5 separate regions of the Homo sapiens genome follow, and regions 2, 3, 4 and 5 are each linked to region 1. The links come from fine-mapping of genetic effects on plasma protein levels. A gene starts in region 1. Each other region holds a variant in brackets. All regions are shown on one strand. Distances are between the middles of the regions. Region 1 holds the start of MDGA1 (MAM domain containing glycosylphosphatidylinositol anchor 1). Region 2 has its middle 15 kb from the start of MDGA1. Region 3 has its middle 59 kb from the start of MIR4462. Region 4 overlaps MDGA1 (MAM domain containing glycosylphosphatidylinositol anchor 1). Region 5 overlaps MDGA1 (MAM domain containing glycosylphosphatidylinositol anchor 1).

Region 1 (5,084 bases):
GGAGCAAGGCTGCGTGGCAGGAGGCAGAGTTTGGACACGTATCCCGGTGGGTGCGTGCCGTGTTTGCGTTTTCTGGGGATGGTGGCTGAATGTATCTGTGTGTGCGCGCAGGAAGGAAGGTGGGGTTGGGGTTTGTAGCCAAGAACCGGGGACAGGAAGAACTGGTTCAGGGAAGGTCCGAAAAGGGATGCCGGGGTCGAAGGCGCCAGGGCCAGGGGATGCCGGCATCCTGATCAGGGTGTCAAGCCCTGAGTAGAAGAAGCGAAGCCGCAGCAACAGCGGGGAAGGCGAGCCCGCCGCCCGGCCTTGGTGCTGACAGCCGGCTCGCCCGCAAGCCGCGCGGCAACTCCGGCTCATGCATCGCTTGGCTTCCACTCCGGAGGCCGAGCCAGGACGAGGTTTCGGTGCAAGTCGCTGCACCAGTCCTAGACTGGGTCTGTCCGGGTCTCCCGAGCCGACCGGGTGCTCTCAAGGGTTCCTAATCATTCCCACCTCTAGCAGGGTGTGGGAAAGTGGGTGCCTCCTCCTGACATCCCGGCTTCCCACCAGACCCTACGACCGGCCCCTGTGTTCCGAAGCAGCTAGCTCGGTCTCCACGCGCCCTGGAGAGGGCGGGGACGCGGGCATCCACTCCAGAGTCCGAGTCGAGGTCTCCACCAAACCCCGGCAGCGCGCACTTTGCGCCTCTTGCAAAGTTTCCGCGCGAGGTTAAGCCAAGGTGGAGCGGGACGCGGGCTCTTACCGTAGACTCCTTGTCCCCGGCAGTGGAAGGGGATCAGCGCCAGAAGTAGAAGGCAGGTCACCTCCATCTTCACGGCCGGTGCTTCATCCCCGCGAGGCGGCGCAGCCCGAGAGGCGGCGGGGGGCGCATTCGCCGGGGCCCCGCGACGCCCCTATGTCCCCCCCTTTCCCTGAGAGGTGAGAGAGAGAGCGGCGACGAAGACCAGGAGACTGAAGAGGCGGAGGTGGCGGCGACCCGTGTTTCTCCTCCGGCGGGGCCGCTGCCCGCGTGGGGACGCAGGGGGCGCTGGCCCAGCCCCGGGTGCCTCGGCGCGCCCGGCACAGCAGCCAGCGCCCCGACCCGAGGAGCCCGGCCGCCGAGCCGCCCCGGGTACCCAGGGCCGTCCGCGCGGGATGCTAGGCGCCGGGGACCTCTCGGCGGCGGAGGCGGCGCTTCGATCCAACAGGCCACGGACGACTGACAAACTTGTCGTTTCCCCGCACTGGGGCCGCCCCTCAGCGGAGCGGAGTCGGGGAGGCCGGGGCTCCGCTCGAGTTAATCAATCTGCTGTTTCCAGTCCTGCGGCCGCTGCCGTGGGCTCAGCGGCCCGACTCCAGGGGGCCGGGCTGAAAGCACTCGCGGCGGCGAAGCAGCCCCGGGCCCGGCCCTCCTGATCCGGGGAGCAGCGCGGGCTGGGTTCGGCCGAGGGACGAGCGCCGCGGGTCCCCGGGTCCGTGAAGTTAGCCGAGCCGCCGATAAACCCGGGGGAAGAATAGCAGCCCGGCGCCCCGCGGGAATCTGGAGAGCAATTCCAGGCAAGAAGGGCCCCAGAAAACGGGGAAAGGAGGAAAGTTTGAGTCTTTTGAAAAATATTCGCGCTCTCGCCCAGGCCGGGGCTGCGGCGCGGGCGCCGCTCGCCGCCTCCGCTCGCCGCGCTCCTCTCCCGCCGTCTGGCCGCGGCCGTAGCCCTCCCGGGCTCCGAGCTCTCGGGAGAGCGGGGCTACGCCGCGCCCCAAGTTGGTCGTCCCCGCCCCCGCCCGGCGGCCTTGGCCTGCGGGGGCCCAGAGCGGGCGGGGCCGGGCCGGGCTCCGGGGCGCGGCGGCCGCTCGGCTCCGGGCCGCGGGAGCGCTCCGCTCGCTCAGCAACTTGGGCTTTGCTGTGCTGCTTTTTCGCCCCTCCGAGCTTTTCATTCCGCGCTCCTCCCGCCTCCCTCCCTCTCTTCCTCCTCCCTCCTCCTCGCGTCTCCTCGTTCGGTCTCTCGCTCTCCCACCCGTTGTCGCTCGCTCTCCTGTTTGATTCCCCTCCAGTTAAAAAAAGGAGCCAATTAAAGGCAGCCCAGCTCGCCTGGCCCAGCCTCTGTCCAATTTCCTCGCCTCCCCCAGGACCAATTAGAGAAAACAAAACAGGGCTGGGGGAAGCTGACTGCCTGCCTTTCTCTTTCTCTTTCTCTTTCTCTTTCTCTCTCTCTCTCTCTCTCTCTCTCTCTCTCTCTCTCTCTCTCTCTCTCTTTCTCTCTCTCTCCTCTCTCTCTCTTCTCTCTCTCCTCTCTCTCTCCCTCTCGCTCTCTCTCCCTTCCTCTCCTCTCCTCTCTTTCCCTTTCTCCTCTCCCTCTCTCTCTCTTCCTCTCTCCGCCCCCTAACATTCCCCCCCAACCCCGCCCAGCAGGAAAATGTCAGAAAGCAGAAATGGATCCATCTATCCCGAGGACAGTGGCGGAGGGACCTGGGTTTCGGCGGGGGCTCTGCAGCCGCGCGCTCGCACACTCGCTGTTCTCCAGCCTTGCACACCCAGACTAGCTGGCCGAGCCGGGTGCACCGTTGCCAGCAGCCCGCGGGGCAAACACGGCCGCTCGCTTCGGAGACCCATGCCCGCAGGGCACTGCACACTTCGTAAATGTTTTGCACTTTGGGGAGGCGGGACTGAAGCGGGGGTCCTAGGGAAAGGCCGGGCGCCTGCGGTTCCTGGGGTCCTGCAGCCGCGCGAGACGGGCCGCGGCTGTGGGTCTGCAAGGCTGTCTGCCCGGCTCGAGAGGCCCCCGCCCCTTTCCAGGCGTCTGGTGCTGGGGCCGGGCCGGAGCAGCTGGCGGAGAGGTCGCGCTGAGAGCTCCTGCCCTTGCCGCGGCCCACAGGTTGCCAACAGGTTTGCTCGCACGACCCCTCCGCCAGAGCTTCCCTAAGTCACCCCACATTTTCCTCGGCTAGCCACTCTTCCCATCTTGCCTCCCCTCGGGACCTCAGGCGCCCCCAAGCGCCCCGGGGGCACACCTCCTTCCGGCTGCCGAACCCGAGCCCCGCTCCAGCGGCGGGAGTCCGGCACTCGGGTCTCAGCCGCCTCGAAGGGGCCCTCGCGGAGCAGGAGTGCGGAGAACGCTCCTCCCAAACGCCCGCGGGGAGGGGCGTAGGCTGGCAAGCGAGGCTGGTGGCCTCCCCCGCGCCTCCGATCCCGCCCCGCGCCCAACCCGGGTCCTGCTAATCTCACCTGCTCCACCTGTCGCCGTTATTTATCTCAGCGTGTGCGCAAGAATTGTTTTAGGTCGGCCCGTGGGAGCGCAGACAATCGCAGCAGCTAACAAGCGGGGAGACTACGAACCCCCCCTCCCTTCGCCCCCTGGAACTGCTCAATATCTTGATGGTGGTTCCACGGCTCTATGCATTTGTCAAAACTCAAAGATCTCCACACTCCAAAAAGGTTAGTCTGCATATAAATTGAAACATAAATTTTTTTAAAATAATAATAATGAACCGTCCCTTCCCCAGGCCCATTTCCTGCTGGGTCTCTCCTCCCTTGACTCTCCAGGGCTTAAGCCCCACCGGAGCGCGCGCTCCTGACTGCTGGAAGAGGAGCGGGAGGTGTCGGGAAGTGCCTGGTGGCATGGGGGGGTTCCACCTTCCTTTCTCAGCCCCCTTTCTGTCCATCTCAGGAAGCCCGAGAACATCCGAAGATTCCTATTCTCTAGCCCACCTCCACTCGTTTGCGCCTCCCTTGTGCCCTCTTCCGTCTTTTCTCTCCTTTCTACCCCGTGGGTCCAAGGCTGATAGGAAGTCCAGACTCAGTGCGGTGCTCCCAGCAGATGCCAGCTGCAGACATGTTCAGTGAATTCACGAATGATGCCCATCATGGCCAGATATCACAGACCTGGGATACCCTCAGGGTAGCCATCCTTTCACTCCCCAGCCCCGGACTGTTACCTCAAAGGCAAAAAATTCATTTTCTGTCCCACAGAGATACACAGCCACCATGCCTCTTCCCGCCTCCCCCATCCAGTCAGAAAAGGAAGTGGTGCCAATTGAGGGAGTGATGAGGGATAGCTTCTTCTATTGTCATCCTCTTCCCATTATTAGAGGGTTCCTGGAAGTCTCTACCCCTTCCAGGAAGCTCTCAGGGAGTGATCACAGCGACTGTGGCTCTTCCTGGCTTTGCCCATTCTGAGCTGAATGTGTACTTCTCCATGTCGTGCGAAACTGCGCTCTGATTTTCCAATTAGCTGTTCCAACACCAAACAGCAGTCAATTGCTCCTCTTTGGCTTTGGGGTGAGTTACTGGGGACAGAGAACTGCACTGACTCAGCTGACATTCTCTTGACTTTGCCCTCTCTAAACTCACACACTAGCCTGGAGGAGAAAGAAGGTTCATGATGGCGGGGTGGGGGGAACAGAGGACCAAGTTAGCCAGGCTGGGATTGAACATTTGCTGTAGCTAATCCACTTGTGAATACTCTGCAGCTAATTGTATGCAGTGTAAATACCTTGACAGCCTGTTTGTGTGTGTCTGTAAATTCAGCTGTCTCCTCCCCCAAGTGTGCCCTGCCTGCTGCCTCAACACAGCCCAGTGTCTGACAATGGGAGGCAACCTCAGAGAAGGGAAAGAGCCCTAGACATCAGTCCTGCGTCCCAGTCCTAACCTCTCTAGGCCTCAGTTTCCCCAGATGTAAACTAGGTAAGATCCCTGTCTTCCTAGAGAGAAGTGGAGTAATAAGAATAACAGCTGACACCACATGCCAGGCACTGTATTAACTATTTAATCTTCATAACCATTATGTAAGACAGGGCTGTTATTCTCATGGAATGACATAGGAAGATGTAGTGACTCACTCAGCTGCTAAGGGGCCAAACTGAGCTTTGACCTCAGTAGCTTGGCTCGGCGACCTTGCCCTCTCCCACTGTTCTATACTGAAGAGGGGCAAGGGCCTAGGTATCAAATAATGTTTCCACAAGAACTGTTTCCTGTTCCCTTTACAGACACAGAGAACAATACTCTGGCCCCCAAATTGCACCAAGGGCAGGGGGGACATGAGAGCTAGACTGCTAGACCTGACATGGGCCATAGGGCACAGGATGAGCCTGAGGTCAGGCTATCTGGAGGC
Region 2 (5,101 bases), 15 kb after region 1:
AGAATGTGAAGCAGCCTTGGCATTGGGGGAAGCCTAGGGGAGGCAGGAGGACCTTCTGGGTGGTGGGCTGTGACATCTTGGATCTGCCTGGTGCCGGCCACCAATGCCTCTGCCCAACAGATATAACCCCCTCTCTCCTGCCCCCGCCACCCCGAAGCCAGCCATGAATCACCACTGCTCTAGCCACTTAATTGAATTTTACCTACCCACCCAATGCCTCATTCATTCATTTATATAATCATTTATTCATTCAAACATGCATTGAGGGCCTACTATGTGCTAGGCACTAGCTGATGTTAACATTTATGGTTCAGAGAGATGAATCAGCAGCTGTGTACTCTAAGTCGTACCAGCTCACAAGCTGGCAGCATCTCTTCTCAATTCCACGTTCAGGCTACAAAGCAAGACCTTTCCCCCAGACAGGTGGTTGTTGAACACTTACCAACACACCACTGTAGCAGGCCCTGGTGTCTCAGGCCACACAAACTCAAACCATAGTGGCTGACAGTCTAAAACAGAGAAGGACATTGATCCAATTTATGGTGTAACACAATCTGGCCCACCCAGATTTGTTGGCCTCAAAGCCATCCACAGCTACCACACAATCGCCTTTGCAACCTAGGAGCACACCAAGAACAGAGGAATCAGTTCTATCATGCGAGACCTAGGAAGGCTTAATGAAGGAGACGTATTTGAGGCTGAGGCTTTGAGGTGAGATGTCTGCCTCAAGGGAGGGTGTTCCAGGTGGTGGGGACAATTTAAGCAAAGGTCTGGAGGGAGGCCAGGCAGAGCGTGTTCACCCCACCTAGATTAAAATGCTGTAGGAGGGAGTTTTCCCCACTTGTTACCTTCCTGATCATACCAGCAAAAGTGAACTGCTCTCCGGAGGAAAAAAGTGATATTGCAAAAGCTGGGCTGTCAGGGAGGGGCTGCTGTTAGAACACCAGGTACTGAGAGATAAGGATGCCTCTCCTCTTCCTTGCTTCTCCTCCCAGCCTCCCCCTCATCACCATTCCTTCTCAAGGAAAGGCCCGACCTGCAGGAAAAATGGCTGCAGTGTGTGAAAGGGGCAGCCAAGAGGCCACCATTGACCCACCCTCAACACCATCACCATTGGCACCACCAGCATATGCCACGGTATATAACCACGGCAACCTGGCGACGACAGTCATCCTGTCATCACTCCCTGTGGGGCTCACTGGCACTGTTACTCGGCCCCTACAGACCTACATGCACAGGCTTGGCTTACAGATATCAGGACAGACACCCAAACAGACCAAATGCTCTAAAGGACTCCAACTACATTTACTGAATGTCAGAGGAGGTCAGGATAGAATTCATTCAAGAAGCAGGTTTCCCAACGAAAACTTCATACCTGCCACCTCCTGACTCTGGAAGTTAGGGGCTCCCCCTATGTGTGCATGTCCACACATATATACACACACACATGCAGAGGCAAGAGTACATCCAGGATGCAGCAGCATTGAATGCCACACTGTTCAACTTGAGATAGGAGAGGCATGGGGGAGGCCTCAGTCTATCAGCCTCAATCACTCCTCCCAGGCCTGGTGAGCTGGTGCCAGCCCAGGCCTGGCCCGCATCCTCCCAGCCACCCTGCCAACCTCACCCAATTGCCTGATGAGGGCCTGAGCTGTCCACCAGTTCAAGGCAGGCTCCCACTCTCCTTTACCAATCCATTGCTGGAGGACGACTATACACCACCTTTGTAGAACACTCCACAGTCCTCAAAGGGCAGTCACGTATTCGCTCATGTAATCGTGGGAACCCTGGGATGTCATTAGGGTCTCCAGTCTATAGAGGAGGAAACTGAGGTTCCGAGTGACTGGAGATGCAAACACAAGCACCACTAATCCTAATAACTAAGCTTTACGGGTTCCATGTGCAGCATTATCTCCCTCCACCCTCATCACAGCCCTTTAAGAGGTGCTATGTTTATCCCCACTTTCCAGCAAAGGACCCTCAGCACCGTTTCTGTGGTGAACAAGTTCACTGTGAGCTCCAGGGTCTCCCTAGTTGGCCCAGAACCTTGGCCCCTGCTTTTATCCTTGTCACACTGCCCCCTCATGAGCTCATCCATCCCATGGTTCTGATTACCACTCAGTGACCTGCAGACAGTGTGGCGTGGGGCCAGGAGCATTTCTCTGGAGTCTGACTGCCAGCTTCTTAGCTGTGTGACCTTAAGCAGGTTACATCACCTCTCTGTGCCCCAGTTTGCTTGTCTGTAAAACAAGGCTAACAGTAGTAAACATAAGAGCAAATTCTTCCAGAGTGCTTATTTTGTGAGAGGCACTATTCTACACCAATTACAAGTATTAACTCTTGAATCTTCACCACATCCAGTGAGGTAAGCCCTTAGCCCAGGGCCAGGAGTGCTGCCTGCACTTGGTAATT[G/GT]TTGGCGATGATGAGCTGTATATTCTGGCTGAGCCCCCTGAGGCTGCCCAGCTATCTGCTTAAAACACAACCCTGGCTGGGCACAGTAGCTCACTCCTGTAATCTCAGCACTTTGGGAGGCTGAGGCAGGAGGATCACCTGAGGTCAAGAGTTCGAGACCAGTCTGGCCAACATGGTGAAACCCCGTTTCTACTAAAAGTACAAAAAATTAGCCGGGCGTGGTGGCGGATGCCTGTAATCCCAGCTACTCAAGAGGCTGAGGCAGGAGAATCGCTTGAACCCAGGAGGTAGAGTTTGCAGTAAACTGAGATTGCGCCACTGCACTCCAGCCTGGGCAACAGAGCAAGACTCCATCTCAGAAACAAAACAAGACAACAACAACAACAAAAAAAAACCACAAAACCCCATTCCTTCTCCCATGTTTCTCATCTTGGTGAATGGCTCGTCATTCTCTCATCACCCGGGCAGACGCCTGGAACCTAACCTTGGGCTCTTCCTTTCCTCTCCAAATGCACATTCAAATTCAGCAGCTCTGCCTCCTCCAACTCTCATCTCCTCCATCCTTCCATCCATTTCCTGTTCCCATCACTGAGGCTTCTGAGGCTTCGGTGCAGCCCTACTCATTTCTCCCCTGGATTATGCAGCGGCTTCCTGCTTCCAGCCCACACATGTTACAAGCCAACCCCCTGTGCTGGCAGAGGAGACTTCTGAATCACAAATCCACTGAAAATCCCTCTGTGTCCCTCCACAGCCTACAGGATCAAGTTCAGACTCTCCAGCTTAGCACCAGTGCTTGTAGGATTTGGGCCCTGCCTTCCTCCCCTCTGCTCCCAGCCCACGCACTGCAATATGGCCACTCTGGGCATGCCAGTTCATTCCTCTGGCCCTTTGCACATGCGGTTTGCACAGTCTGGAGTGTCCTGCCCATCCTCCTTCATCTGACCAGCCCCCCACATCCCTCATGACTCAGCTCAGGCAACATCTCTTCCCAGAAGTCTTGCTGGAGTTCCACTAAATGCTTCTCCTTCATGCTCCTAGAATAATACTCTTAACTCATTGAAATTATAATGACATTATCTGTGTGTTGTCCCACCAAACACAGATGTTGCCTGGAGGCAGATGGTTAAAAGCAAGTATTGCAGTCAGATGGTCACAGGTTCTGATTCCAGCTCTACCGTTTACTAATGGTGTGATCTTAGGCAAGTTACTTAACCTCTTTGAGTCTCAGTTTCCTGATCTCTAGTGATAGGAGGCGAATGGTAGTACCTGCCACAGAAAGTGGTTGTGAGACTCTTGATGTAGCAGGAAAAGTGCCAAGCACAGTGTCTAGCTCAATCCAAACACTCAATAAATGTTAGCTATTATTATCTAATATAAGATTCTGTCTTTTTCATCTTCCTGTTACTATTGCCAAAAATATGGCCAGCCATGTGCCAGATAGTTAATGTCTTTTGAACTGAATCAAAGTGAAATAACTTGGAAACAGTTTCTGTCTGAATCAGGGTTTCTAAGTTGCAAGCAACAGAAATCACACTGGCTGTTTTATGCAGAAAAGGAATTTACAAAGGAAATCAGGTAGTTCACACAATCTCTAGGAGGACCAGAGGATGAGGCCTGGAAACCACAGTCAGGAACACAGTGTCCAAATGACACCCTAGACCTGTTGCTGTGGATGCCCATCTACCCCCACAACTGGCACAGACTCTGCAGCCTATACTACTGACACTGGGCACTGAACTCTAGAGATTGTCCCTAACATTTGGGAGGCTCAGGGAAAGAGGACAAATGGAGACTCTCATGCTCTATATCCAAGTATTTCAAAATCTCAGTGCTCACAATCTATTAAATGAAATATATTAGAATCTGTTCCTGTTACTACGGCTGCATAAGAAGTGCCAAAACTTAGTGGTATAAAACTAACATTTATTAAGCTCCTAGATTTTGTGGATCAGGAAGTCAGATCCTGAATGGTTTGTCTCTGCCCTGTAATGCTGAGGCCTCAGCTGGAAGGTTCAGAGACTGGGGACTGGAAGCATCTGTAGGCTTACTCATTCACATGTCTGGTAGTTGACTGGAGGCCTCGGTCCCTCTCCATGTGTCTCTCCACGAGGACTGGTCTGCACTTCCTCACAGCATGATGGATGGATTCCAAGGGCAAGTTTCCTAAGAAAGAGACACCCATAAGAAGCTGGATTGCCTTTCATGACCTAGCATCCGAAGTCATGCAGTACCACTTCTGTCACACTCTATTCATCAAAGCAGTCACAAAGTGCTGCCCAGATGCAAGGGGAGGGGAAGTGGACTCTGCCTCTTGGTGGGGAATGTAAAGATCTGAAAGAGCAAGCAAGATGACACGCTGCCGTTACCATTTTTAGAAAATACAGTCTTCCACAGATTCTACACCTTGACACATAAACTTTTATAACAGCCAGGAAGGTCAGGTTCAGACTCAGAATCCTCAGAACTGTGCTACAAAAGGGTGGTGCAGGGAATCTGCCTCCAGCCCCTGTCCCTTCTCTTTCTTCCCTTTGGCCCTGTCCTGCCCTGCAAGGGGCCCCTGGGCTTGTGTGTAGACATTCCTGCCTACCGGCCCAAGTTCTCTTCACATCCCCCACCAACAAACACCCCTGGGCTGCCTCTCAGGCTTTAGGGTACACCACTGCAGTGTGATCTACCTTCGGAAGACAGA
Region 3 (5,101 bases), 84 kb before region 1:
CAGTTTTGTTGAGGTTCAGCCGTGTACCCAGCCTTGGAGGATGAGTCACTGGTCTGGGCCAAATATGACATTCCTCTCCTCTTTGCCATATACTGGAGTCTAGGTCCCAGGTAACGATGCATTAGCACTTTTCAGATCAACCCTCCTAAAGACCACGAAAAGTGCTGGATAAAATATATGTTAACAAAATAAACTTAAATGCTTCAAAAAGATGAGAAAGCAACAGGGAATACCAAGCTAATTTGGGAATGAAAGCGTCTAACCGGAGAGGTAAGCACCAAAGCTGTTTATCCTGAGGCTATTTGCAGATACTGCTCAACTGAGCTTCGAATCAAGGGAGGCTTGAGATGAGAGGGACAGAAATCAAAGTCCACGAAGGCCTGAAGTTGGGGATCTTCCAGGAGACCCTCTCCACATCAAACTGAGGCTGCCAAAGGGTGCACCCTAAGGTTATGGTGCCAGAGACTGGATTTCCTGAACTCCTTTGCAGGCAGAGGTGGCTGTATGACTCAGTTCTGGCCAATGAGACACAAAAGTCTGCTGGACAGTCTCTGGGAAGGAATTTTCTCCCTGATGAAAGGAGAGAGTGCATGAGGAGAGCTCTCTTTTTCTTTCTTCTTCCTTGCAGCTCAGGATGTTGTCTGTGAGGCTGTGATGAAGTGCTCTGGCCGCCATCTTGTGACCATGAGGCGATGGACACTATGAACACACTGAAGGTTGCAGAGCAGAGGGATCTGTGAGGAGCCTGAGTCATTGACCAGCTCAGGAATCAACCCCTCCAGACTTTTCGCTACTTACGAAAAACCAGGCTGGGCGCAGTGGCTCACACCTGTAATCCCAGCACTTTGGGAGGCTGAGGCGGGCAGATCACCTGAGGTCAGGAGTTCAAGACCAGCCTGACCAACACGGTGAAACCCCATCTCTACTAAAAATACAGAATCAGCTGGGTGTGGTGGTGCATGCCTGTAATCCCAGCTACTCGGGAGGCTGAGGAAGGACAATCACTTGAACCTGGGAGGCGGAGGTTGCGGTGAGCCGAGATCGCGCCATTGCACTCCAGCCTGCTAGGGGACACCCCTTTTGGTCTAATATGCTGTTACTTCAATGGAAGGCATCTCTCAACTGAGAAAACCATGTACACACCACAAATGCATGGCAGGGGGGCTTGCCTGCTTTTACCACTATCACTCATCCACCATGAGAGTCACAGGGTGGCCCCTCTCTGACTCCCCTGGGCCCCCAGGCAGAGCAAGGAAGGTGAAGGAAGAGTAAGAGTCCAGGCTCCTCACCCCCAGGGGTCAGAAAGTTCACAGCTATTTTTACCCCTCCTCCCCCGTCTCCTCTGCCACAGAATTGATGACATTCAGGGTTAAAATGTGTTCCCAAGCCCAGACTCTCTTCTACCTCCCTACAGGACTTGAGCACATCTCTGGGGCTCATTTGTTTGATCTGTGAAGTTGGGGGACTGATCCTACTGTACCTGCATCTCAGGGTCAACATAAGGAACCCCTTTACCCTGTTTAGGCCTCTTACCCCTTGCTGGTGCTTTACAGACTTCATCTCATTTAATTTAATTCACAGGACACCCGCTACCAAGAGATGGTGTTATTAACACTTAGTTTACAGGCAAGAAAATGGAGACTCACTGAGCTTAAATGACTTGCCCAAGTCACACGGCTTGCAGGTTGCTTAATTCAGATCTGTCCAACTCCAAAGCATTGCCTTCCCAATCCCCCACCCTATTCCCAGCTGCCACCCCCAACCCCACAGAAGCTAGTAACACGGGTAGGTAGATGGCAGCTTAGGGCTGTAGGAATACATGAGGGTAAGGGCAATCAGGGAAGACTTCCTGGAAAAGATAGGGAGGGCTGGGTCTTGAAGCCTGGACAGAAATTAGAGAAAGATGGAAAGCCAAATGACCTGGAAGAAACTGAGCCAGACTCAGAGCTTGGGAGGGAGGGAAGGAGGAGATGTCTGGGAGTGGGGACAGGTATTGGGAGGGGCCAGTGGACATAACCATGCGAGAGGGTTTGAGTGTAGTCTGGGGTTAAGCATGCAAACTGAAGAGCCAGGGGACTGAACTGCCTCCCAACTCTGCTATTTATCAGGATTATGACCCAGAATGAATTCGTTAACTTCTCTGGGCCTTAGTTTTTGCATCTGTAAAATGGGGATGCTAATAGTACATCCCTTGCAGGACTGTGCTGACTAAATGTACCTTGGCTACAACAATGCCTGGTACTTCATATATGTCGTGATCACACCCTTCCTTCTTTGTAGCTCTCCTGCTCTCCCTGCAGATTTATTTGACCACTCAGAGATGCCCCAGAGAGCTCCTAGTTTGCCCCACCTCTGGAAGCCTTGATCTTTCTGCTGAAGATGCCCATTGCCCTTAGAACCCCACCAACCTGGGCTCCCTCTAACCCACACCCTCCTTCTCCCTCCCTCCTTCTATGTGGGGGAATGAGAGAGATAAGAACCAGCAGCTTCAATTAAAACTGAGTCGCTTGAACAATAATGGAAAAGTAATTGAGCTAAATTGAAATGTAATTGGAAAAAAAAAAAAACAATCGTGGCTTAACATGGATTTAAAAGCCAGGCTGGGGGCAGGGAACTCTACACTCTACAGCCTCCAAATCTCCTTATCTCTTCGCCATCTCTCAGGGGGCCCCCTCACCACTCAGCCCAGAGTCCCCACAAGCTCCTCCTCATCCTCCTGAGGCTCCTCCCTTTCTCTTCTCTTTCCCAGCCTCACCTCCCCTTATCCTAAACAGGGCTTCTTGATCAGGAGTAACTTTGCACGCTCATGTG[C/T]GCACACACACACCATCTAACAGTGTCTGGAGGCAACTTTGGTTGTCATGACTTGGGGACGGGGGTGGATACTACTGGCATCTACTGTGTAGGGCCAGGGGTGCTGCAAAGCATTCTACAGTGCCCAGGACAACCTCCACAATCAAGAATTGCTAAGAGTGCTGAGATCGAGAAACCCTCTCTACTCCATCTTTCCACTCTGCTGAGGCCCCCAACCCTCAACTAAGGGGCCTCTATTATCCTTTTCCCTCTCCAGCATCAGAGAGGCACCCCCTTTGATGTATGTGCCCTATAAACCCAAAGACCTGGACCTTCAGAAGAGAGAAGAATAGATGTCCTTACTTCCTGAGGGCCACATCCTAGCCCCCTACCCTCTGCCAGGGGAACTCAGCCCTCTCTTCCTTCCTCTCCTCCCCATCCCTTTTCTCCCTCCCTCCTTCCTTACTCCTTTCCCTCCTCCCACTCCCTTGCAAAGGCCCATCTGGAGGCCAAGGAGCAGACAGGATGACCTTTAAATCTTCCTGCCCATCCACATTACCCAAAAAGGCCTCAGAGGTCAGTCCTTGGAGGGATGCTACTGGGGGCCAGAATCACCACATCCCAGGATGTGCAAGGCAGAAATGTCCTTGGAGATCATCCCAGTAGGAAGGAGGAAGCTGGCCCAGGAAGGGAGGCCAGGCTCGGGGCTGGCTGGCACAGAGCTGAGGCCACCCAACCTCCAGACTCCCATCCATGAGCTGGCCACTGCCCATGTGAGGATGAGGAGGGAGGAGCATCTCCAGGTCCTCAGATCCTCTTCCCTCTATTCATACTGGAACTTAGCCCTTCTGCCCACAGAAGCCAGGCCTGCCCCTGTCTGCCTGTCCAACTCCTTCCATCTCTTCCCTTCCGCCCCCTCCTCCAGGCTCCTGGTGTGTGACTCCACGCGGGGGTAGGAACTTGGGAAGGCAGGGAGGTGAGCAGGAGGTGTCTGTTTGGGCTCCCGATAAACTCAGGAGTCAGCCGGCGTGAAATGAAGAAATATGGCTCCCGGTAAATATTTATTTTCTATCAGAAATTAGCAAACCAAATGTAATTAAAAACAACTCTGTGTGCCTTCTCCACTCCCACCCCCAACCCCAAGTCTAGAAAATGACATCTCAGAATAGTGAGTCATAAAGACCGTGTCCTAATTAGCAGGCCACCCGCTGCTGCTGAGGCTGCCTTCCTCAGACTCCCCAGGAAGTGACGGGGGCCTGGCGTGGACTCAGGTCATCGAGGTGGCCTCTGAAGATCTCCTCTAGCCTCCATCCGGGTCTAAAGAGTTCGAACCCTGAGCAGGGACCAACAAGGGGAAAGAGAGAATGAAACAGATCTCTCACTTTTGAGTCTGATGGGGGAGGCAGAGCATCTTTCTGGCCCCTGCCCATCTCCAGGCAGGTAGCAGTGGGTGCTGGTTAAGGAAACTGGGTTTGGAAAATCAGCAGAACCTGATTCCCTCACTTTCTAGCTGTGTGGCCTTGGACAACTCCCTTTAATTCTGCCAGCCTCAGTTTTCTTATTTGTAAAATGGGGATCGTGAGGCCTACCTTGCAGAGTCACCAAAAATGTAGTGAACCCCTGCTTTGTGCCGGGTTGTGGGGCTAGAGCAATGACCCAACCAGACATCTCTACTCTCCGGACTTACCTCCTGGTGGTCCTGGTAGTACTCAGTTGTACAGCCTCCATCCACCACCCCAGCCTACCAAGTCCTGGCAGTATTGTCATCCCAGTGGGCTGGGTAATAGTTACCCCTCTTTGTTGAGCACCTACTGTGTGTCTGGTGCTGTGATAGGCTTTGCTCCCACAAGGTGGCTAGACTAGTTGGAGGGCTCGGTTCCAAGTCTAAGTCCCACGCTGCCTTGGGATGGAGCACTGGGTGAACAGAGATCCTGACTTTGGCTGCTTTGCTCCTCCCCTTAGCTTAGGCTGTGGGTTGCTGTGCTCAACAAGTATTCCATATCCATCCTTCCTCCAGAAATGCTGTTTCCTGCTGTCTACACCTCTAGTTAAAAAATCCCCAATGTTCTAGTGCCAGCAGGGTGAAGTTTGGCCCTGCTTACAGGGTCTCCACAGCTCACTTCCCTGACCTGGGTGGCACAGGCTTCTGACTTGGCCACTGAAGCAGTTGTTGTCAGGCCTACCCGGGTCCCTTCACCCTTACTCCCTGCAATGCACCAGCCCAACTTCGGACTACTAGTCCCTGCACCCCTTTGCCCAAGACCTCTCTCTGGAGCAGCCCAAAGCATCCTGCTAGGCTTGCAAATGCCAC
Region 4 (5,101 bases), 50 kb before region 1:
CCAGATGCCTAGGAAGTCAGGCCCTCAGTTTCCTCATCTGTGAGACAGGACAATCACCCCTTCCGTGCCCACCTCCCAGGGCTGTCTTCATAATAAAAATGATGACAGCAACACACTGAAACATTAATAAGTGTGGGGCACTGTTCTAAGTATATTGCCATTAGTAAGTCATTTAATCCTCAAAATTACAATCCTATGAGGCAAAAATCATAATTACCCCCATTTTACAGATAAGGAAACTGAGGCCAAAGAGAGTAGCTTGCTGTAGCTCACACAAAGCTGGGTTCTGGTCTAGGCAGTCTGCCCCTGAGCCACACTCTTACCCTCCCACCAATCACCTCTTGGGCTGAGCAGAAGCACATGGAATCAGACTGGGCACGAGAACAACAGAGAGACCCTGGCTTTGCATGGTGGAGACCCCCTGGATGAGACTTACCCTCCCCTCTCCCATACCCTTCTTAAGCTCTTGACCCAAGAGTTGATTCTATGTTCTGTGAGCAGTGCTGGCTCCCTCCCCCACGAACCCAGCAGACCCTTGCCTGCCCAATTCTCAGAGCTGTGCCTAGAGTCTGGGTCCAGAAGGGACAGATCCCTAGAACCTCCAATCTCTTGCTGCTATGTCCAAAACTTTTCTCCCTGCCCCTGAAGAATTGCCTCTAAAAGGGTCAACGTGTCTAAGCCCCATCTCCGACCCTTCCTCTGGCCTTGATGAGCATTTCCAGGGTCAGCCACACCACACTCCACCTGCCCCCAGGCCCCCGCTCCCCCTTGGCCCACCTGGCGGATGCTGAGTCTGTAGTTGAGCACAGGGTCGACAGCGTCGGGCTCCCTCTGAGTCCACTGCAGCACGTAGGAGTAGTTCTTGGACAGCTTGTGGCTGCGGGTGGGGTTGGGGGTGTCGAAGTAAAACTCCGGGCTGTAGGCTTTGGCTAAGAGGGCGGGGAGGGGGGCATTGGGCCGTGGAGGGTGCAGGGGAGACACAAAGAGAGGAGGTGTGGGAAAGGGAAACAAGAGGATGAGGTGGAAAACAGAGAGGGGACGGAGAAACAAAGAGAAAGGGAATATTGTGAGGTGGGGAACGTTGGGAGAAGAGGGGATTGGGGAAAACGAGGATGGGATAGGAGGGAAAGTGGGAGATGGAGACAGGGAGATTGGAAATTCCAAGAGGTGATATTGGTGAGAAGAGAAAGGCAGGCCGAGAAAAAAACAGAGTAAAGAGAAATTTAGGAAGACACAGAAAAGGGATATGAGGGAAGATGGGGAAAGAGATTGGGGGAAAGACACAAGAGTCAGGGATATTGGGAGGAAAGAAAGAGAAGGGAGAGGAGGGGAATAGAGAGAGGAGTGGGGAGACAGGGAAAGTGTGGGAGAACAGGGGAGAAGGGAAGGAGGTGGGAAATGTCACAGGGGCCTCTGGCTGGCAGGGCTGGGTGGAGGGGAGTGGGGAAAGGGCCAGTGACCTGCCGTCCTATCCCCCTGCTGTTGAGTGAGGGATTCAAACAGAAGCTGAAGGGCCACTTAGTCAGTTGGGTGCTGCTGGGAAAGCTGTGTATGCCACTGAATGGGGGACAGACATCCCCAGGCTCTGCTCCAGGGGCGCTGCCACCAGCTTTTGCAGGGAGGCGGCTCTCCTCACATGGAGGAAGACCATCAGCAACCCAGGCAGCCCCTCTTGTTCCCCTAGGCCTCCCTCACCACCACCTCCACCCCTTTCTGACCCACCCATTGCCACCTGCAGCCCCTGACAGCCCACCTGAGAATGCCTCGAAGAGCTGGGGCTGAGAGGGGTTTCTGGGCACCGAAGGGCCTGCACCTCTAGGGTGCCAGCTCACGAAACGTGTGCTGTCTGGCCCAGTGCCCCGCAACAACGTTCCAGAGAAGCTGCTGAGGGGCGTCTTCTCTCCCCTAAACTACACCTCAGGCTCCCGAAGGGTTCCCCATCTGTAGCCTCAGGGGTCAAGGACGAGCGGGGAGGGGCTGAGATGGGGCTGTGGCCTGGGCTTGAGGGGCTCTAACGCTGGTGGAAGCGGGGCTGGAAGGGATGCTGCCTGCTGCTGGAACGGCTGGAAGCTGGGATTGGACCGAGCTGAAAGGGGTGGAGCCTACGCCTTACGCAGGCGGAGCCCAGACGTGGCTTGGATGGGTTTCGAAGGGGTCTAGGCCTGGTTTGGGTGCTGGTAGAGAGGCGAAGCCTAGGCCTGTGGGAAGGCTATGTTTGAAAGCGGCGCGGTTGTCACACGCCCAGGAAGCGGGCTGAGCTGTAATGGGCGGGGCTTAGGACTGGTATAGGCATAGGCGGGCCTTGGAAGGCGAAGGCCTCAACCTCAAGGGAAGGTGTGAGTGGAGGGGCGTGGCCCGCACCTGGAGGGCGGGGCTGGGAGGCCCAGGTTGGGATCCGAGTGGCACGGGGCGGGGCCTGGCCTTGGCGTGGGCGGGTCTTGGAAAGGCCGGGGCTAAGCCTGGAGTAGGTGGGCTTCAAGGGGGCCAGCAGGCCCACCCAGGCAAAGAATCACCCGGGCTGGGATTGGGGCAGAGCCTGGCCCCTGGTGGGCGTGGTAGGTGGGGCGGGACCCACTGGACGCTCACCGGAGACCTGGAAGAGGCAGGCAGCCGAGCCCACATCGTTGGAGACGCTGCACTCGTAGCTGCCGCTGCTGTCGCGAGTTACGGCGTCGAGGCGCAGCTCCGCGTGATCCGGCGCCTCGGCGGCGGCGGGAACAACAGGCGGCGGCGGCAGCAGCTGCCCTTTGAAACGCCACACAGCCGAGGCGATGCGCTGGGGGCTGCCTCGCAGCAGCGAGCAGCGCAGGAGCACGGGCCGGCCCAGCGCCTGGCGCACGTCCTGGGAACTGGGCTCCACCTCCGGCGGGACTGGGGGCGGGAGCGGCGGTCAGCGGGGCCTCTCCCCAGCGAGTGGGGCCTGAGGAGTGGCCCGTGGGGAGGCAACGC[G/T]CTCGCCTCTAATGCCGTGAGCCCCCGCCAGGAAAAATCCCAGGGCGGATGCACACTCGCAACACATCCCTCCAATGGCCACGATCTTACCTCCCAACCTGCAGATACCCACTCCCTCCTGGCCATTCTCTCCAGCCATGCTTCCCAGACCCGGCCTCCAGTCACGCCCTAAGTGGGCCCCTCACCCCACGCCCACCCCAAGCAATGAAATGCAGGATAACGCAGGGGTTTCGCGCATAATCTCTAAAGCTAGATGGGCTGGGTTCAAATCCCAGCCCTGACTCTGTGAGACTTTAGGCAAGTTACTCAACCTCTCCGTGTCTCGGGTTCCCTGTTTGTAAAAATGGGGGAATAATAGAATCTATTATAGGGCTGTGGGGGGTTCAATGAGTTAGTGCATTAAAACTCTTAGAACAGTGTTTGGCACATGGTGGTAATTTTCATCATCCTGTTATCAGACAGTGTTTCCCTTGAGTGTCCTTCCTCCTCCTTCAAAATCCCATTTCCACCTGGCAAAATCAAGTAATTTTTTTTTTGTTCACCGGGTCCCTGAAAATGAAGATGGGAGATACTTGATGAAATGGAGCAAAGAACACAGACCTCCGTGTCCTACAGCATGGGGCTGTCAAGGAGCATTAGGGGTATCAGGAGTAGCTGGTGGGGTTTGGTTGGACTGGGGTGGGTGAGAGGATGAAGAGGGGACAGGCCGGCTGGGAGCCAGAAGGAAAGCTGGGAAGGTAGTCCGGGTGGCGTGGTGGACTCACACTGCACGTTCAGCTGCACCTGGGCCTCACGGGGGCGCACGTTGAAGCCATTATAGCGGGCCGTCTGGCAGCGGTAGGTCCCGCTCATGTCTCGGCTCACTCGCTCCAGCCGCAGCTTCCCGTCCGGAGTCTCCTCCAGGGGCAGCCCCGAGGGCAGCAGTGCAGCCTCCTTGTCCACGCGGGACCAGAGCACTGGCGGCCGCGGCTTGCCCCGCACCTCGCATTGCAGCTCGGCAGGCGATCCCTCGCGCACGGTCACCACGGCCCTACCCTTGGGCACACTGATGGTGGGCGGCACTGTGGGGGTGATGGTGATCAGCGGAGAGGTAGGAGCGGAGTTAGAGCTCCCCACTGGGCTCTGCCTTCTGGCTCCTGCTTACCTCCCGCTAGGGGCAAGCCTCTCTCTCCCATCCCAGACTTCCGACTGGTCCCCCAGTATTTCCAAAGCAGAACTCACTTTTCCAAATCCTCTCCATCTCCTGGGTCTCCACCTCAGTGTCTCCCAACTCAAAAAGAGACCTGAAGTCAGCCTGGCCTATATTCCTTCTTCCCCAGCACTAGTAAGTACTAGGGATTCCACCTCTTAAACATTTCTAAATATATCCATTCTTGGTCCTTCTGTCCTACTCCGGGCCCTGGCCTATTTAAAGACTTCATCTTCTCTTGCCCTAGTGTGTTATCACAGGCTGCTAGTCTGTCCTACATCCTTGCCCTTTCGTCCTAAGTAATAGGATACCTAGTTTTCAGCAGGGCTTATAGCCACCCAGAAAAAAGAGTACATCTCCCAGCCTGCATTATCGTTAGCTACAGCCACGTGACTAAATTCTCGCCAATGGGATACTAAGGAAAATGAGGGCGTTTAAAAGAAGCTGTACCCCTCTTCTCCTTCCTGCAGAAAAGAATGCAGAATAATGGCTGCAGCTGGAACTGCCATCATGGGCAACGTGGCACATGCTAAGGATGATGGAAGAGCAAGCCAGGTGGAGCCTGGGGCCCTGAGGACTTGGTGGAGCAGAGCCCCTATACTAGCCCTGACTGCTCACCAGCACAGTTTTACATGAAGAAGAAATACACATCTAGCTAGTTTAAGCCACTGTTAATTAGGGTTATTTCTGTTAATAACACTGTTAATTTCTTTTATTCACGGCAGAACTTAATTCAACCCAACACATTGCCCAATCAGAGGGTCTTTTGAAGACTTCCATGAGTCCCATTGCACATTACATCAAACAAATTAAAATGTACCCATGTTCCACATTAAATATAATTTAAATACAAAGTTCTTATTTGTAAATAGCTCTACAAGGCAAGCTGAGGTCCAGTGATCTTGTTAGTATAATATATACTCTATAAACATTTATGCATTTATTGGCTTGAATTATGCAGTT
Region 5 (5,101 bases), 23 kb before region 1:
CCCACTGAGAGGCAGAGAGGGAGCAGGGAGGGATTGCTGTGAACTAGAGACTAGTGCTGTCTCAGGTCTCCCCCCACCCCCCATCCCCATAATATAACATTAACTGCAATAGCTACCCTTTATTGACATTTACTCTGCCAGCAATATATTCAGTGCTTTATATCTTTTATCATATTTATTGCTCCTAACAAGCCTACTATGGTTCGGACTTTTCAGATGAGGAAGCTGAGGTTCAGCGAGGTTATATAAGTTACCCAAGGACACCCCATTGGTCTGGAGTCTGTCTGACTCTCCGTCTTTCATGCTAACCGCCATGCATTTCCACTTCGCAAGTGCCTAGCCCAGTGCAGGGCTCACAGCTCAGCACGGAGCCTCCACATTCCTGGTGGGACCGATGCTGTGCAGCATCCTCAGAAACCGTCCCTCCCTCGCCGTGACACCTCTCGCCCTCCCAGATCCTGGTATGCAAGTGTTTATTGATCCTTTTATGCATGTAATGCAAATGAACACTTAATAATTTAGTGGAGTTAATAGTGCTGAAATATTAACAGGCTTTTCTCTTTTAATTAGCTGCTCAGAGAATGGCGGTCGGGGGCCTGGGAGGAGGCTTTCCTGGGCAGGCACCTGGCCTGCTCCGCCTGGGCCTCCTTCTGCCAGGGATGATGTTCCAAGCCTCTCTACAGACTGTGAGCCATCAAGCGTGGGCCTCTTGGGAAAATTAGCCCTGCCCTTCTGTGCTCACTGCATCGGGAGTTGCTCTGCCCTTACCACAGCCCCGCTCTCTGCAGAGCTGGCTGGAGCCTGTCCTCTGTTCACCACCAGCCGGGGGTGGACCAGGTGACTTCTCGGAGGTGCTCTGAGGCTGGGGGAGGCTCCAGTTCTGTGCTAGGAAAGCCGACTTGAAACAGCCCAAACCCACTCACACCATCTCCTCCAGCCTTGCCTGAACGCAGAGCATCTTGAGGGAAAGCAGCAACAGACTTTTGGCCCATCCAGTTCTGGTCATTCTCTCTCCGATCATTAGACTCATGTTCGAGTCCATTTCCTTCCCATCCTCCCTCTCGCTCCCTGTCCTCCCAGTCCCTCAAAGGGCACACACAATCACCTTTTAATTTGCCATTGATTCATTAATTGGCTCTGTAACATTTTCTGAGCACCTATTATGTGAAATCTCCTGCCCTCAGTGCTGGGACACAGAGCCAAATGAGGCATAGCCCTTCTGGGCAAAGAACCTCTGCCCTCTCCCTGCTGCAAACCATATTAAAGCCTGTTCCCCGACACAGGGCCTTTTCTGCTCATCAAAACCAAACCCATATTCAGCCAACCTTCCCTTTGGCTGCAAAAATCTCTCCCTAACCAGAGTGCATGTGTCTCTGACCTCCGGGTACAAGGGCGCTGTCACTGAATACAGCAACCAGCCACAGCTGAAAGGATCAGTGTGCAGGCCGCCACCCCGCCACCACAATTGAATGCAAAAACAAGGTCTGCTTTCATAGTCAGATGCAAGCCTGCTACAGTTTGCAGGGCCTTGTTCCATTTGCAGAGCCTGCCACTGTGGCGCCTGGAGCTTCTGGGAGAGGCTGGCACCCTTACAACTCTCCTCTGCTGCAAGTGGCGGCTGGTCCATTATGTCCCATTCCCTGGGGATGTTCAGCACCACTGCGCCCACATCCTGGTCTCATTGGAAGGCACACAGGTATTGAAAGTGGCAGGTGATGCTCATAGAATCTTCACTGTCTATCAATGGAAGTCTAATCTGCACACCCACTTATAGAACTAGAGGGTGTCTGGACAGGCCACCAGGAAAGCCCTTTAATGAGGACTTTTAGGTCTCCTGATGAAAACTATAAAGGGACTTTCTCCTGGTGGGTCCCAGGATGCCAGGATTAAAACTGCTAATGATTGCTGGGCACGGCGGCTCACACCTGTAATCCTAGCACTTTGGGAGGCTGAGGCAGGCGGATCATTAGAGATCAGGAGTTCGAAACCAGCCTGGCCAACATGGTGAAACCTCGTCTCTACTAAAAATACAAAAAATTAGCTGAGTGTGGTGGCAGGCGCCTGTAATCCCAGCTACTTGGGAGGCTGAGGCGGGAGAATCACTTGAACCTGGGAGGTGGAGGTTGCAGTGGGCCGAGATC[G/A]TGCCATTGCACTCCAGCCTGGGCGACAGAGAGAGACTACATCTCAAAAAAGCAAAAACAGCAACAACAAAAAACTGTTAATGATGAGGGGACACAGGTCATCTCCAATCAGTAAAGGCAGGACAAGTTGGGCACTGCTTGATCAGAGGCTTTAAATGCAAATCTGAGAGGGCTGCTCAACGGCATAGGGTGAGGGGTAGGGAGGAGTGCGCTACCTTTTACTCAGTGACCAAGTGACCTTGGGAAAGTTGTTTAACCTCCTTTAGCCTCAGTTTCTTCATCTGCAAAATGGGGATAGTACTACATCTCAGGCTTCAATGGAGATAACTTTTGGGTTGTTGTGAGGATTCGATGAGACAATGCACATCGGGTACATCACACAGTGACTTGTACTCAGCAGGTACTTAATAAATTTCAGTTCCATTTCCACTTAATAATATAGCCCAGGATGCTTTGGGAACCTATTCCAAAGTCTTGCAAGAAAAAAATGTGAAACCGAATGAGGTCTACTTTGAAGGATTTCCAGGAGTTTGTAATCCTGAGAGATCAGAACATTAAGGTGGGCTGAAAGTAGTAATAATCACTGGGAGGAAAAGCTCTCCCTGTGAGAATATGTAAGATGATGGAAAAGAGAAGCTTCCACCCATCAGGGCAGAGAATGACTCCTAGGATCCCAAGGTCTGAGCCTTCCTGGCCCAGTGATGTGGGACCCATGGACACAGGGTTACTCATTGTTACTCATGTAAAATTTCCTTGCCTGGATCCCAGAAAGGAAAGTTCTAGCCCCACCAAGCTCTGCTGGTCTTGGAGACCCCATCACTGTGGTTCACTTGGCACTGGTCCCTGGCAGCAGCCCAGGGTCTAGATCTGACAAGCCTGCACCTGTCAAAGCATACCTATTGAACCAAGCCCACGGAAACAGTAATTTCTGGGTGACTTGAGGCAAATCATTTACCCATCTAGTCTACAGCCTCAGCTTCCTAACTAGAGAATGGACATAACAGGGCTCCCTATTGTGAATGTGAGACCCACTGAGAATGGAATGCCCTGCGCATAGTGCATGCTGCCTAGTAGATACGCTAGAAGTACAGTTAGAAGGGGCTGACATAAAACCAGACTCATGAGTGTGTCTGCTCTGAGAAGGTCCTCCTGTTCCAGGGTGAATCCTGATAGGCCCCAGTCTCTAGGAGTCTGTGGCACAGTCGCTAGGGATAGGGCACCACCAGGGTAGGACCGGAGACACACTGCCAGATCCAGGCCTCCAAACCAGAAGGCAGAGCCTGGGCCAGGAAGTGGGGATGGCAGTGGCTTTGCTAAAGCAAGGAGCCCCCAAAGCACCACCTGATCAAAAAGCCCAGTGAGGCAAAGGGATGGAACATGGCTCTCTCCAAGGCCCACAGAGCTAAACCCCAACTCTCAAGTAGGCTCAGCTTGGGGTTCTGGCACAGGCCTGAATGTAGGGGCCAAAGGGAGAAAATGAGGCTAAGGCACTGGATTTGGGCTGCAGTGGGCATCTGGGGACCCTGAGCCCTCACATAAGCATGGATGGAGGTAGGTGGCAGGGGAGTCCTTTCCACAGAGTGCAGTAGAAAAGCAACCAAACCTGGCCCAGCATGATGGCTCATGCTTGTAATCCCAGCACTTTGGGAGGCAAGGCTGGTAGATTACTGGAGGTCAGGAGTTCAAGACCAGCCTGGCCAACATGGTGAAACCCCAACTCTACTAAAAATACAAAATTAGCTGGGGGTGGTGGCTTGTGCCTGTAATCCCAGCTACTCGGGAGGCTGAGGCAGGAGAATTGCTTGAAGCCGGGAGGCAGAGGTTGCAGTGAGCTGAGATTGTGCCATTGCACTCCAGCCTGGGCAAAAAGAGCAAAACTCCATCTCAACAGAAAAAAAAAAAAAAAAAGGAAAAGCAACCAAACCTGCAAGAACTAGTTAGAGGCTCCACTCCAGCACTTAACTTGCCTAAGCCCCCACTTCCCCATATAAAACAGAGGCCAATAACATTAGGCTTACAGTGTCTTATTAAGTGAGATGACATTTAAGAAAGTATCATGTAAACTGTAAAGTTCTGCATAGAGCAGGACTTATTATTATTAGGTGCCGAACGACCCAAGTATGGCTTCAGGAGGTTCAAATTGGAAGTTAAAAAGCAGGCCATAATGCACCTATTAAACCAGTGAAAATAAATTAAAATGATAAAATCCATTGTGGCCGGGCTGTGCACAACACCAGCTCAAACTTTCCGTCACACAACCCGGCAGTGCGAAATGAGAACCATAAAACTGTTCCTATCCTATGACCTGTTAGGCAGTCTCACTTTGGGGAATAGGCCCCAAGGAAATAATTTAAAAGGAAAAAGTAATTCACATAAGGATATTCATGGCAGAGCTATTTAAAAGAAAGGGAAATTGGCTCCTACCCAAATGCTCGGCAGCAGAGAAATGGTGACCCGAACTCCAGCACATCGATGCAGGGGGTGTCCTGCGGCCATTAAAGTGACAGGTCTGAGGGCTCAGTCAATAGCAGGAGACGTGTGTAGGAGATAAAGGCAGCCGAGAAAGCAGAACAGACCACTGTTTACTGCTATGTAAAAATATATTGACAGGTATGGGCAGGGAGTTTAGAATGAATGGTTAATGTTTGATGGTCATTGGGCTTCTTTTTTTTCTATGAAGTTGTTTAAGTGGATAATAATAACAATAACAACAATGAAAGCAAATCAATGTTGCAGCTTGAGAGCTGGTGGGGCCTTGGCCCATAGCAGCACAGAAAGGGAGGGAAGGAAGGACAGCATTTCTGGGGGTCTCCCACAGCCTGGCAGACTCTGACCCCCTCCGACCTCGGGTCACTGTGGGTCCCTGGGTAGAGCTCCAGCTCCTGGAAAGCACCCCACCCAGCTGCAGGGGGAGATAGGGGTGCTGCACCCCAACTTCTAGCAACCCCTAAAGCCATCTC

Evidence for each region. PIP is the chance, under the fine-mapping model, that this variant and not a neighbour inherited with it causes the effect. Protein levels are from antibody-based Olink assays in UK Biobank. Linkage for the fine-mapping came from a reference panel and not from the study's own genotypes, which makes the PIPs less certain.
Region 2: its variant is fine-mapped to the plasma level of the MDGA1 protein (UK Biobank, PIP above 0.99).
Region 3: its variant is fine-mapped to the plasma level of the MDGA1 protein (UK Biobank, PIP above 0.99).
Region 4: its variant is fine-mapped to the plasma level of the MDGA1 protein (UK Biobank, PIP above 0.99).
Region 5: its variant is fine-mapped to the plasma level of the MDGA1 protein (UK Biobank, PIP above 0.99).

What each region holds. Positions count from the first base shown.
Region 1 is chr6:37,696,003-37,701,086 of GRCh38, forward strand. MDGA1 (MAM domain containing glycosylphosphatidylinositol anchor 1) reads right to left here and starts at 1,881. Exons shown (of 17, transcript NM_153487.4): 1 at 743-1,881. The coding sequence starts at 809. RefSeq lists enhancers at 1-504, 505-1,234 and silencers at 777-936, 967-1,256, 1,437-1,496, 1,557-1,686, 1,747-1,816 and 3 more.
Region 2 is chr6:37,710,530-37,715,630 of GRCh38, forward strand. No RefSeq gene overlaps it. Among named protein-coding and RNA genes, the nearest start is that of MDGA1, 15 kb to the left of the region's middle. The variant G/GT (reference allele first, on the strand shown) is at 2,413.
Region 3 is chr6:37,612,119-37,617,219 of GRCh38, forward strand. No RefSeq gene overlaps it. Among named protein-coding and RNA genes, the nearest start is that of MIR4462, 59 kb to the left of the region's middle. The variant C/T (reference allele first, on the strand shown) is at 2,812.
Region 4 is chr6:37,646,396-37,651,496 of GRCh38, forward strand. It overlaps MDGA1 (MAM domain containing glycosylphosphatidylinositol anchor 1), which reads right to left. Exons shown (of 17, transcript NM_153487.4): 8 at 3,714-4,010; 9 at 2,587-2,871; 10 at 778-929. Among named protein-coding and RNA genes, the nearest start is that of MDGA1, 49 kb to the right of the region's middle. RefSeq lists a silencer at 2,311-2,410. The variant G/T (reference allele first, on the strand shown) is at 2,950.
Region 5 is chr6:37,672,871-37,677,971 of GRCh38, forward strand. All of the region lies in intron 1 of MDGA1 (MAM domain containing glycosylphosphatidylinositol anchor 1), which reads right to left. Among named protein-coding and RNA genes, the nearest start is that of MDGA1, 22 kb to the right of the region's middle. The variant G/A (reference allele first, on the strand shown) is at 2,142.